Linked DNA regions of Homo sapiens. The protein of the gene in region 1 interacts with the protein of each later gene in a pairwise test. Each region holds a gene or a part of one and is shown on either strand. Other genes may lie near its edges. The genes, in order: TPCN2 and TPCN1.

Evidence for each region.
Region 2: the proteins of TPCN2 (region 1) and TPCN1 interact in binary tests that used the Homo sapiens proteins (3 or more experiments, as listed by UniProt).

What each region holds. Positions count from the first base shown.
Region 1 is NC_000011.10:69,051,887-69,059,161, forward strand, and holds part of TPCN2 (two pore channel protein 2), read left to right. Parts: intron 1-2,146; coding exon 2,147-2,211; intron 2,212-2,834; coding exon 2,835-2,911; intron 2,912-3,288; coding exon 3,289-3,466; intron 3,467-5,691; coding exon 5,692-5,808; intron 5,809-7,275. UniProt on the Homo sapiens protein: Intracellular channel initially characterized as a non-selective Ca(2+)-permeable channel activated by NAADP (nicotinic acid adenine dinucleotide phosphate), it is also a highly-selective Na(+) channel activated directly by PI(3,5)P2 (phosphatidylinositol 3,5-bisphosphate).
Region 2 is NC_000012.12:113,294,247-113,299,143, reverse strand, and holds the end of TPCN1 (two pore channel protein 1), read right to left. Parts: intron 3,185-4,897; coding exon 3,068-3,184; 3' UTR 559-3,067; downstream 1-558. UniProt on the Homo sapiens protein: Intracellular channel initially characterized as a non-selective Ca(2+)-permeable channel activated by NAADP (nicotinic acid adenine dinucleotide phosphate), it is also a voltage-gated highly-selective Na(+) channel activated directly by PI(3,5)P2 (phosphatidylinositol 3,5-bisphosphate) that senses pH changes and confers electrical excitability to organelles.

The DNA.
Region 1 (7,275 bases):
GAGAGAGGCGGGCCGGCAAATGTGGGAACCTGCAGTGCCAGACCAGGGTGGAGTGTGGGCCTGGAATAGTGGGGGCCCAGGGGAAGCTGCGATGTGCTTCTGAGTGTTTGGAACGAGATCCTTGGGCTGTTGCAGGGTGAAACGGAGGATGGCCAGACCCAGAATTTTACAAACCAGCAACCAAAAAGCCAGGCGAAAGGGAACCACGAGTGCTGGATGGTTCCAGGGGTGCCCACCACTGTTGGCCTGGGATGGCTGGCCTGGGTGGATGTGAGTACTTTCCGTGGTCCTGGGGCTGGAGTGAGGCCCGGAACTCGGCCGCTTGTCTCTTGTCTAAGAAGCTTGTATCACTAGATCTCTCCTGGTAGAGATTTTGTCTTCTCCCAGGGAATCTGGTAAGGTGGGGCCTCTCAGATCACCGGCCCCCCAGGCTCCCCTCAGGGCTGTTCATTTATTCATGGGATATATCAGCTTTGAGTCCTGTGTGCTTGACTTCTGGGCTCTGCAGATACAGCAGGGAACAAAACAGTGTGGCTTCTGTTCATAGCGATCCCAGGATGTGCTCAGGGGACATAAACAGTAGCCACTTTCAGAGCTTCCCTGGGGAGACATTCGGGTGTCCTCAGGGTGGGTCTCGTGGCTGTGCATGTGGGCACCAAAGCCACAGGGAGGGAAGGCTCTTGCTCCCGGCAGTGCAGCAGGGCCGGGCAGAGTGAGGGTGGGGTCCGGTCTCCTGCCTCTGTCTGGGGCCCCTCACACCTCTAATCCGTCCAGGGCCCAGCTGCCTATACCTCATGCCCCCAAGCAGGAGCCCCGAGGACAGGGGCAGCTGCCTCCCTAAGGATGGCCAGTGGCGTGGGCGGGTCATGGCCTGGAGCTCTGCCTGGGGACCAGCACCTCCTGAGGCCTCTGCTGCTGCCTCCCATGTCACCACATTGTCTTGGTGCAGCTGTGGGCCCCAAGGGGCCAGGTGTGAAAGCCGAGTCTCAACTGAAAAAGCAGCTGCTTCACCCTCTCCCCGTGCTGGGAAGTGTCAGCCTCTCCGGGCTCCTCAGTTGCTTCGGGTTGAGTTTTCCTTCCCTGTTGGCCTGCTGGGGAGCAGCTCTGCAGCGAGGCCAGAGGTGGCCCGTGCCTACGATGCGGGTGGGTGGCCCAGGCTCCCTGCAGTGGCTCAGTGGCTGACCAGGTGCGCCCGCTGGCTGCTCTGTGGCAGGTGAGGGGCTTGTGAGCAGGCCAGGGTGCTGGGTCCTGGCTTCTGTGCCGCCTGACTTTTCCTGAAGGCCCCTCCTAGTCAGGAGCCACTGCCGCTTTTGCCCAGGCCTGCCGGGAGGCTCCACCCTGCTTGTGCTGTTGGTAAAGGCGGGCGGCCACCCTTCACCACAGAAGGCACCGGCAGAGGCTGGGGGACTCGGGCGTTCCTGCAGCTCTGACCCTGGGAGTGATTTGGGTGGGCTTGCCTGGGCCCATGGACCGGGACAGTGAGGGAATGGGACCTTGGTAGCACTCATGAAGCCTCATGGCAGTGCCTTTGGGTTCTAGATGCCAGTTCTCCCTGTCACTGTTGAATCCGAGGTCTGGTTTGATGGGGGTGGGTGGGACACTGGGTACAGTGTCCTGGCTCATGAAGACTGTGCAGGAGCCAGGTAGGGCCGAGCGGAAGAGGGGTGACAGCAGCCCCATGTACCGAGCATGCCTGGGGAGCGTGGCAGGGGGCTCTTGTGCTCCTGCGTTGCACCTCACAGTACCCTCTGGGGAGCCGATTGGGTGGCTGTAAATAGCCCCACTTGACAGAGGAGGAGCCAGCCACAGCCTTCCTGCCAGCACGTGGAGGAGCCGGGCTCTGAACCCCGACGCTGGTGCCAGGGCCCTGCAGGATGTGCCGCTTCCCACAGGCTTGCTAGTTGTGTGCGCTGCATGCGGAGGTGCCGTGCCCTGGGCCTGGCCTGTGCATTTGATGCCGAGGCACTTACCTGGTTTGGTCCCTGCCCTGGGCAGGTACATGCAGCCCCACTGCCGGGTGGAGTCATCTCTTTACAAACGGCCTTGGGAAGAACCACAGCCGGCATCTTTCCTTGATCACGGGTATCCTGGAGGGTGAGGCCATGTCATCCTGCTCGGTCACCTGATGTGTCCCCTCTGCCTGCAGGTGCCGCGGCCAGGTGGGACCTCTGCATTGATCAGGCTGTGGTCTTCATCGAAGATGCTATTCAGGTCGGTGGCACCTGCTCCCTGTGGCCGGGCCTGGGGGGTGGCCGCCCTCCGATTGGCTCGCCCCTCCAGGGGCGACTGACTGGGTCCAAGGCCTCCATTGCTGGACTGTAGGTTAAGAGAACTGAGGGTGGAGCCTCTGGGCACGGCTCTTCGTCAGTCCCCGGAGGACTTGTCTTCTGCATCCTGGACGCATTTGCTGCTTTGATGCACCGTGTTCTGAGGCCTGTTGTGGACCACCCCATTCTAGGTCCCGGGTGGGTGGGGGCATCCTGGAGGATGACACAGCTGCACGGGGCGTGGGAGGGTCAGCCTTGCACAGAGAAGAGAGAGCCTCGCAGGCAGACACGGGCACAGCTGTGCTCTCAGCAAGTGTTCCCTGAGTGTTTGCTCACGCACCCACCCACCCCGGGTGTGTGGCCTGTGAGGTCTTGTGTGTTGGGCAAACCTCGTGGTTTGTGATGGTGTGGGCCTGATGGGTCAGGGCTGGCCATGTCCACACGCTGAAGCGTCCCCTGTGATCCACAGCCTGAGACTTGGGCCTGTCTCGTGTGTGGTGTGGGGCTCGGGTCACGGCCCACCCTGCATGCACCCATGTCATGCCTCATGTGACTTTTCGCTTGTAGTACCGCTCCATCAACCACCGGGTGGATGCCAGCTCGATGTGGCTTTACCGACGGTATTACTCGAACGTATGCCAACGGTGAGAACGCACCCATGTGGAACTCAGGGTTCCTGCCGGCTTGCGTGGCAGGGGAGGCTGGCCCCCACCTGGGGATCACCTGGTCTCAGGGTCCAGGCAGGCTCCCCACTACATAGATAGGGCGGTTACCATCATCCTCTCTGGAAAGGAGACGGCCTGTGATGGCAGGCTCCTTCTACAACAAGGGTTCCTTTCTGGAATGCTGTGGTCAGCCCTCGGCAATGGAGCTTTGAGCAGATTCGTGATCTCCCCAGTCACGAGTGTCCACGCTCAGGCAGCGCCAACTCCCGTGCTTCGGACTGGGGAAGCTCCTGACCAGCCTCTGGGCCCTGAGGGCTGCTGGCTCCTGTGTTTTCATGTTTCTGTCCCCTTTCCAGGACTTTGAGCTTCACCATCTTCTTGATCCTGTTTTTGGCTTTTATCGAGACCCCATCCTCACTCACCAGCACGGCGGACGTGCGCTACCGCGCTGCTCCCTGGGAGCCGCCCTGCGGCCTGACCGAGAGTGTCGAGGTGCTCTGCCTGCTGGTCTTTGCGGCCGACCTCTCTGTGAAGGTGAGGCGGGCGCCAGGCCCTCTACGTGCTGCCCCGGCCTCCCAGCGCCTGGCCGCTGCTCTCCTGGTTTATTGCTGATTCTCTGGAGTGAGCTGCCTTTTCCCCAGACTTTGTACTTTGACCCGGTGAGCAAGGCACACTTTCTTGGACAAGCAAGTGCCTGAGGCAGAGGCTATGTCAGCTCTCCTCCCTCTCCACCATGCAAACTGAGGCCAGTGTGCCGTCAGCTCTCCTCCCTCTCCACCATGCAAACTGAGGCCAGTGTGCCGTCAGCTCTCCTCCCTCTCCACCATGCAAACTGAGGCCAGTGTGCCGTCAGCTCTCCTCCCTCTCCACCATGCAAACTGAGCCCAGTGTGCCGTCAGCTCTCCTCCCTCTCCACCATGCAGACTGAGCCCAGTGGGCCGTCAGGGGTTGCGCAGGCTGACAGGGCCTCTGGGAACAGTCCAGTGTCTGCAGTGCTGCTGTGAGGAGAGGTCCCAAGTGAATAAGTGAGGCCCAGGTGGTCCCTCCTCAAGGCTCACCCTGCCACCCCAAAGAGAAGAGGAGAGGAGGTGGGCGTGGGGCAGAAAGGGGTTTCTTATGCACACAGCAGCTGCTGCATGTTTGACTCTGGGTTCTGCCTGTGACGCACGTCCTCCCACAAGCTGGAGGTGGGCCTTTGGTGCTCACCTAAGCTTCTGAGCCTCGTCAGAGACTTAGTGCCTTTCCAGGGAGGTGCAGGCTACGTTTTCTATTTTTGTCAAACAGTGATTCCAGTGCTGCGGTCTCAGGGGCCCCCACATCCATGCCCATGGTGTTAGATCAGGCCCTGGCTGCAGCCCTCCTCAGCGCCAGCCCTGCCGCTCCTTGGCTGGGCCTTGGGCTCACGTGGCTTCCTGGTCGCGTGGGGCCTCTGCCCGGCACTGCCCTGTAGTCCCTTGTGGGCAGGGCGGGCTGTGTGCCGACCGAGGGTTGTGGCTGGATGCTGGTGTGTGTGATTGCAGGCCCCGGGCAGTTTCTCATTTCTTCCTTTGTAGCTTATCATGTGGTTAGCAGGTCTGGGGGTTTTTCAACTGGAACTGAAACTGGCAAGAGGTTGTCATTAGCGTTTTTTGAATGGTTGGTGTGTTTGAGAAGTGTCAAAAGGTGAGAGAGGGTACATCAGCAAGCTGTGACCTCTGGGGGCTGTCTTTTATTTTATTTTATTTATTTATTTTGAGACACAGTCTCGCTCTGTTGCCCAGGCTGGAGTGCAGTGGTGCAGTCTTGGCTCACTGCAACCTCCGCCTCCTGGGTTTAGGTGATTCTCCTGCCTCAGCCTCCCCAGCAGTTGGAATACAGGCGCGTGCCACCACGCCTGGCTAATTTTTTGTATTTTTAGTAGAGACGGGTTTCACCATGTTAGCCAGTATGGTCTCGATCTCCTGACCTTGTGATCTGCCCGCCTCGGCCTCCCAAAGTGCTGGGATTACAGGTGTGAGCCACTGTGCCCGGCCGTCTTTTATTTATTTATTTATTTTTGAGACAGAGTCTAGCTCTGTCGCCCAGGCTAGGGTGCTGTGGCATGATCTCAGCTCACTGCAACCTTCGCCTCCTGGGTTCAAGTGATTCTCCTGCCTCAGCCTCCCAAGTAGCTGGGATTACAGGTGCCTGCCACCATGCCCGGCTAATTTTTCTATTTTTGGTGGAGACAGGGTTTCACCATGTTGGCAAGGCTGGTCTCAAACTCCCGACCTTGAGTGATCCGCCCACCTCGGCCTCCCAAAGTGCTGGGATTACAGGCGTGAGCCACCGCCTTCTGGGGACTTTCTTGATGGTGGGAAATGGCAGTTAGGTAAGGGAAGAACAGACCAGACCTCACTTCCCAAGCTGCCTTGCTGTGGCGGCGGAGACCTGCCCACTGAGCTGGTATTTTTCTAGCCTTTTCCAGAGTGCATTCCATGTCTTCTCAGCCTGCACAAGGTGGTTGTTAGATAGGCAGAACAGGCAGGAGCCTCCCATTACTGATGAGGACCCCAGGCCAGAGAGCTTTGGTGCTGCCTGAGACTGCACAGCGAGTCCCTAGCAGGCTTGGGCGGGAGCTCGGGCCTCCTGACTGCTGCTCTGCGTCCCGTGGGGACCACACTGTTGTGGAGGCGCACCCTGCTCTGGTCGCCTGGTCCCTGCGCTGCGCACCGTCATTCTCTGGCTGCAGGGCCAGCGTGTGGGGCTACTTGCTGCTCACCCGCCCGTCTATCTTGCAGGGTTACCTGTTCGGGTGGGCCCATTTCCAGAAAAACCTTTGGCTGCTGGGCTACCTCGTGGTGCTGGTGGTGTCTCTGGTGGACTGGACCGTGTCCCTGAGTCTCGTGTGTCATGAGGTAGGTGGTGAGGCAGCCCTGAGACAGATGGAGAGATCTGGGGCTGGTGTGGGTGCAAGGCCCACGGGGGTGCTGGGATGGAGCCCTGAGCCCGCCAGCCATCCTGCCCACCCGCCCAGCACTGCCCACCTCCCATGGCACTTCCTTCACTTGTTGGCTGGGGATCCTTGTTCCTGTCTCACAGATGAAGACATGGAGGCCTGGACGGGCACAGGGTTCCTCCTGGCTCGCCCTGTTTTTGAGGGCGGACCTGGGAGTGAGCTCCAAGACTTCTGCCTCCCGGCTCTCCGCTCTCTAGCTGAAGGCCTCGGCCGTCCAGCCCCGGATGAGAGCGCCACACCAGGGCCTCACCATGCCCCGTAGTCACAAGCCCCAAGCTCTGTGAGGTCTGACAGTGAGAAAGCCCCCTCACCCGGCCACACTCAGCCCTTTCCACCGCAGTGCCTTGGTTTCCCCTCAGAGCACCCAGAAGCACCCCCTGGGCTTTGCGAGAATAGAGCTGGGAGAGGTGGGTGCGGAGTCAGCAGAATCCACTGGGGTCTGTCGGGAAGCAGAGCCCCACAGGTGCCTTGTGGAGAGAATGAACAGAGGGCCTTAAACAGGCTCCGAGAAACCAACAGTGAAAGGAGCCCAGTGGAACCCAGAACCACCGGGAGCAGTCCCACTCATGGGCAGGGGACGGGGGAGAGATGGGGGTTGTTAGCACCTGGAGGCCCAAGGGAGGGGCCCATAGAGCTGGGTTCTTGCCCTCTGTCCTCTGGGAGGGGGTGCTGTCTGGTGGGCGCTGGTGCCTCCCAGAAGCTCAATGAGGTTGGTCCCAGCAGTGCCGATGTGGGGGCTGGAAGCTCCAGGTGCAGCTGATAGGAACAGCCTAGTGAGTGCATCTCCTGTCCCCGCCTGCCCCAGGGCCCTGCTGGCAGGACCTGGTGGGGAGTAGCTGCTGAGGAGAGCTGGAATGGGCGGCATCGCAGCCCACAGCACGGCAGAGCGGAAGGGTGGCTGGAGGGCAGCCCCGCTGTGCTGCTGCGGGGCCTCCGTGGCCACCTCCTTCCTGTCTCCCTGACTCGGCAGCTTCCCGCAGCCTCCTCCCTGCAAAGGGAGAGCCTCTTGCGTGACTGCCCCAGCAAAGGGAGCGAGGATAGCCCTCCCACCGCCATTTCTGAGTTACGGTTGTGGCAGCTGTATCATGTTCTGTAACTTACAGGCTAAATTGTAAGCCACACCAAGAATCCTTATATGAAATTAGGATGGGGAAGGAGACAGGAAAAAGAGACACAGGTCTACGTTACAAGCAAGGAAGAAAATGAATAAAGGCCTGGTTTTATACCTGGCCGTGGGCCCTGCCTGGATCTCTTCTGCCACCTGCTCCGCGCTCCCTTCGCCTCCGCCAGCTCCCCACCTGGCCCGGGTTTTTCACCTGGCACAGGGACTGGACCTTCCTCCCTGAGGGGCCCGAGTCCTTGGTGG
Region 2 (4,897 bases), on another chromosome or scaffold:
AACGATGCCAGCCCGAGGCACTGCTACGCCAGCAGCTGCCACATGGGATGGTGGCTCAGGCGCTCCCTCCAGGATTCTGCCCCTGCCTGTCCACAGACTCCTTTGTGCTGGAACCTGGGCTCCTCCAGCTGCCAGGCAGGAGTCGGTAGGACTGTGCCTGTGCCTCCCTCAGCGGGGCCCTGGGCGGGGTTCCAAGGCCTGCGAGCTGGGAAAGGACAGATGAGGGGACCTCGTGCCTTCTTGCTGTCATGCAATGACCCCGCCTTATGTTGCCGAAATAAGCAACTCTTAGGTTTGCCTGACTGCCTTATGCTGGTAAAGAAAAGGGATTCAACTGTCTCTTTTCCAAATAAAAAAAAAGTCAAAATTTCAAGTGTAGAGAAAATGACACCCCCAACTTTTACCAGTTCTTCCTCACCTGGGGCCAGTGCCAAGTGGCTGACCCCAGGGCACAGCTCGGGGTGGGGCTGAGGCAGGATCAGGAATGGCCATGGCCTTGGATGGGGCCACTCTCCCGACAATACCCAAAGCCACAGAAGTCAAGAGGCAGCAGCCATGTTTACAAAGCAGAGGCTCTTTTAGTAATGTGCTAGAAATCCAGAGACACAATGGGTTTTCTAGGAAACAAACCACCAGTGTACAAAACCGTACAGCATTGCTCCCGTGATCCGTACAAAATGATTGTCCGCATGGTGGAGTAAGGCTGGGGCTGTGGGAGGGGAAGCGAGGAGCTGAGGAGGGGCACAGTTCTATTGCCACCACCACCAGGCTGTGCCCCTGGCCGCCAGTGGGTGCCACTTGGGTGCACTCAACTATGACATCAAGGATGAGAGGGCATCTGAGCTAGATCACATCCCAGGGCCCACAGAGCTCACAGCCTGTGGGGGGACCCCAACTCCCTGCTGGGTGGGGCCAGGCATAACCTGGGGATAGCTGTCCCTAACCTCAATGACAAGGGCACCCACCCTGGCTGGACTCCCGTCTGTTGACACTGCTGCCATTGGGTATTTGTCAGGTCCTGGCCAAAACCAGGTCCTTTCTCAGGACAGGGTTGGGCAGATGGACACATTAACTCGCTCTGGACAGGGCCGAGATCCCACTCCTCCTGGAATAGGCCCCCCCACCTCGGGGCCTTGACTCCCCTGGGCAGACCCCGGGGTGCTGCTGGCCCCTCCACGTTTCCACCCCTGGGGAGGAAGAAGGGCCCAGGCGAGGCCCAGATGCTCAGGTCAGAGACTCACACCTTTAGAAGCTGTCCCCTGACCCTTGCTTCCAAAACGCCCATTTCAACACACAAAAGCTAAAAGGCACCCAATTGTGCAATAAAGTTCCCTCTCTGTGAAAGGGAGGGGGTTCTGGCCTGGGGCTCGATGTGGAGCTCCTGCTGATGGCCCATGGCCCTCCAGAGAGGAAGAGGACAAAGCCAGTCTGACTCCCGGGGGAATCACAGTGAGTCTCAATAATGTGTTGCTTTCCCAAAGGGCTGTGCTTTAAAAACAAACACCTGCTACTTGTCCAACTCCCCTGACCTGGGAAGGGGGGAAGGGGAGAACCATGCCGTGCTGGCTATGGGACCCAGCTTGGCCTTGGAGGTGGTTGGGAGGAGGGGGTGGGGGACCAGGTACTGCTCCCCTGGGGTCGGGTGCCACCCTGCCCGTTCTGTGGCTGGGAAGAGGACAAGGCCAGAGGGAGGCTCTGTCCACCTGCCTTCTGAAGTCACAGGAAGCAGGCACCAGAGGGCCGGGGCTGGCCAGGAATGCCCAGCAGTGCACTCCTTGCCCTTCGCACCCTCCATCCTGCCACTGCGGCTCCTGCTGCAGAACCTATGCTGTGTTCCGTTCTGTGGCCCAGGGAAGCGGAACCAAAGCGACCTCTGCACTGACCCTGCCTCTGTGGCAGGGTCACTGCAGCTGGCAACCCTCCTACCTCCACCACGCTCAGATGTCATACAGGGCTCCTACAGGGTACCATGGTGGGAGGAGGGGTGGCGACGTTAACTGAGGTTCATCTGAACCTACTTCTGCACCAACCGCTCCTGCTATGGAAATCTCTGGTGTGAGCAGAGCCAGGGAGGGTGGCTGGGAACTGGGCCGGGGCCACGGGGCTGCTGCGTCCCACAGGGAGCGTCTCTCTGTGCTGTTCGCTCCTGTTCCTAGTGCACACGTGTGAAGGACCTGGTATCGGCTTTAGCACAATCCTTAGTTAACCAAAACGTTGTTTTGCTTGAACGGGTAAATCGCAAAAAAAGGGATTTGGTCAAGAGCCCATTCCACGAAGTGGTCTGGGTTGCAGACATCGGCCCCACTTCCTGCCTCATGCCCCTTCCTCCGGGTTCTGGGTCCCCAAGGAGGCCACTGTGGAAGAGTTTTCGCCAACAAGGGTTAAGCCAGAGAAGGCTGGGTGGGAGGCTTGCAGAGCCAAGGGAGGAGATTGGTCAGTGTAATCTGTGGCCGCCCGGCACTGGCTAACTGAGCTCTGGCCACATGGGCCCAGTTGCCCCAATTCCGCTTCCATTAGATCCTGGGCACTGGTCCCCGAAGAGGTGTTGCGTGACATTATCACAGACACTGAAATACCACCCTGGAGACCGGGAGTTCTTTCCTTCCTAAGTGGTTCTGTCCCTAAAGCAAAACACAGAAACCTGTGGCATGGGCCGCAGGGAGAGGGGGCGGGCACGCCATCAGGTCGGGGGGATGTGAGCCTGAAGCAGTAGCAGTGACAGCTTTGGACGTGGCCGATGGAGGCCAGCCCACATGAGGGGCAAGCCCCGCAGTCGACTGGATCCAGGTGAGGGGTCTCCTTGTGAAGGGCCTTCTGGAGCCTTCCACAGTAGGAAGAGCTCAGACCTGGTGGCCGCACCCCCACCCCTCACCAAACTGGCTTCTGGAGTTAAGGAAGACAGGGCAAGGTGGTTATAAACCAAGCCCCATCTTGTCTGTCTTTTTTCTTCCTGTATATAAATATGTGCATATACGTGAGTATGTGTACACACACCGCAGTTCCGTACATCGCAGTAGAGTAATACTATTGTGTTATTGCATAGAAGAGACGGCTTTCGGGCGCTGGGCTAGGTAACGGTCTGGGAGCGCTGGCGGCTGCCTGGGGGCTGCTGGGCGGCGGGGGCTGCACTGCTGCTGAGTTGTCGCTGCTGCTCTTGCTCCCTGGCATGCTCCTCATACCACTCCTGGAGAAGAGAGCAGAAGGGGTGCTGAGGGCTGCACCCCACCCCCTGCCCCGCCCACCCCACAAGGTCACACAGCCCACAGCATCCAGGCTGGAAGGGGCAGGGCTGCCAGCCTCACCCAGCTGGTACTGAAACCCCCGTCACAGGCCCAGAAATGCTGGGAATTTTGAATGTGGCCCCAGAGGCAAAAATGACAATGAAATCTTTCCCTAGTGTCTGGAGGTTTGCGCATAACAGCTCTCTAACAGGCCCAGGCAGGAACAACCCTCACCCCTTGTTTGTGAGCATAACCTTTTGTCCTTCACTAAAGGGCCCCCCGAGTGACCCCTTTTGAGCTTGGCAGGAATTGTGTCCCTGTTTCACACCCGAGACACCGAGGCTTAGAGCTGTATTGTGCTGAATACCTCACCTGCCTAAGGCCATGATTATAAACTCTGACATTTTCAGGGACTGAGGTATTCAGGTAATTAAGGAATTAAGTATACCCCACATTTCCTTTTTTTTTTTTTTTTTTTTAGGAGACAGAGATTCACTGTGTGGCACAGGCTGGAGAGCAGTGGCGAGGTACGGCTCACTGCAGCCTCCCACTCCTGGGCTCAAATGATCCTCCCGCCTCAGCCTCCCAAGCAGCTGGAAATACAGGTGTGCACCACCATACCCTACCCTACTTTTTAAAAGACTGAACCATAGACTTTTAGAGCTTCGAGATGGCCTAGTTCTGGCCCCCTTGTTTTACAGAGGGGGAAACTGAGGCCTGGAGCAGATGGACAGGCAGAAGGGCAGAGGCCAAGGGCAGCACACCTCCTTCCAACCACACCTGAATGGGTGCTGCTGCACAGTCATCCCCTTGCACAGACAGGGAGGCATGGAGTGACTGCCCAAGGTCAAACGCTTCTATTATTTCCATGTTTCTGTGACACCAAGTTCAGTGAGCCACTACACATCAGCCCAAAGAACACTGCCTGAGTCTCTTGTGTTCCCGGAGAATGTGTAAGCTGCTTTGGGGACAGCACCCCCCGCTTTTCAGGCATGGACCCTGGTTGTCACTGTTTTAGTGAAACAGAAGGGCTTCAAGCTATTAGAATGCCAGAAAACAGAGCAAAGCCACCATAGCTGGTGTGGGAGAGGCTCCCCGGAGCCCTGGCAACCCTGAGGTGGTTGAGAAGACTCTGCAGGGCTCATGGGCTGGTGGCCCATGGTCTGGAAGGCACCGTGCCAAATGCCAGCCCACACGGTGCTTTGTGAGATATTTTCCTTAGCTGCCAATATGTAAAGATTGGGAGGTCATGCAAAAAAAGAAAAACATCTGATTCTGCCTTTTTTTTTTTTTTTTGAGACAGAGTCTAGCTCTGTCACCCAAGCTGGAGTGCAGTGGCATGATCTTGGCTCACTGCAACCTCTGCCTCCTGGAGTCAAGTAATTCTCCTGACTCAGCCTCTTCAGTAGCTGGGATTACAGGTGCACGGAACCAGGCCTGGCTAAATTTTGTAATTTTAGTAGAGACAGGGTTTCACCATGTTGGCCAGGCTGGTCTCGAGCTCCTGGCATCAAGTGATCCGCCTGCCTTGGCCTCCCAAAGTGCTGGGATTACAGGCATGAGCCACCATGCCTGGCCTGCCTTTTCTTAAATTAGAAGCCAAGGTGGAAGAATTGCTTGAGACCAGGAGTTTGAGACCCCAGCAAGACCTCACTGCTACAAAAATAAGGTAATTA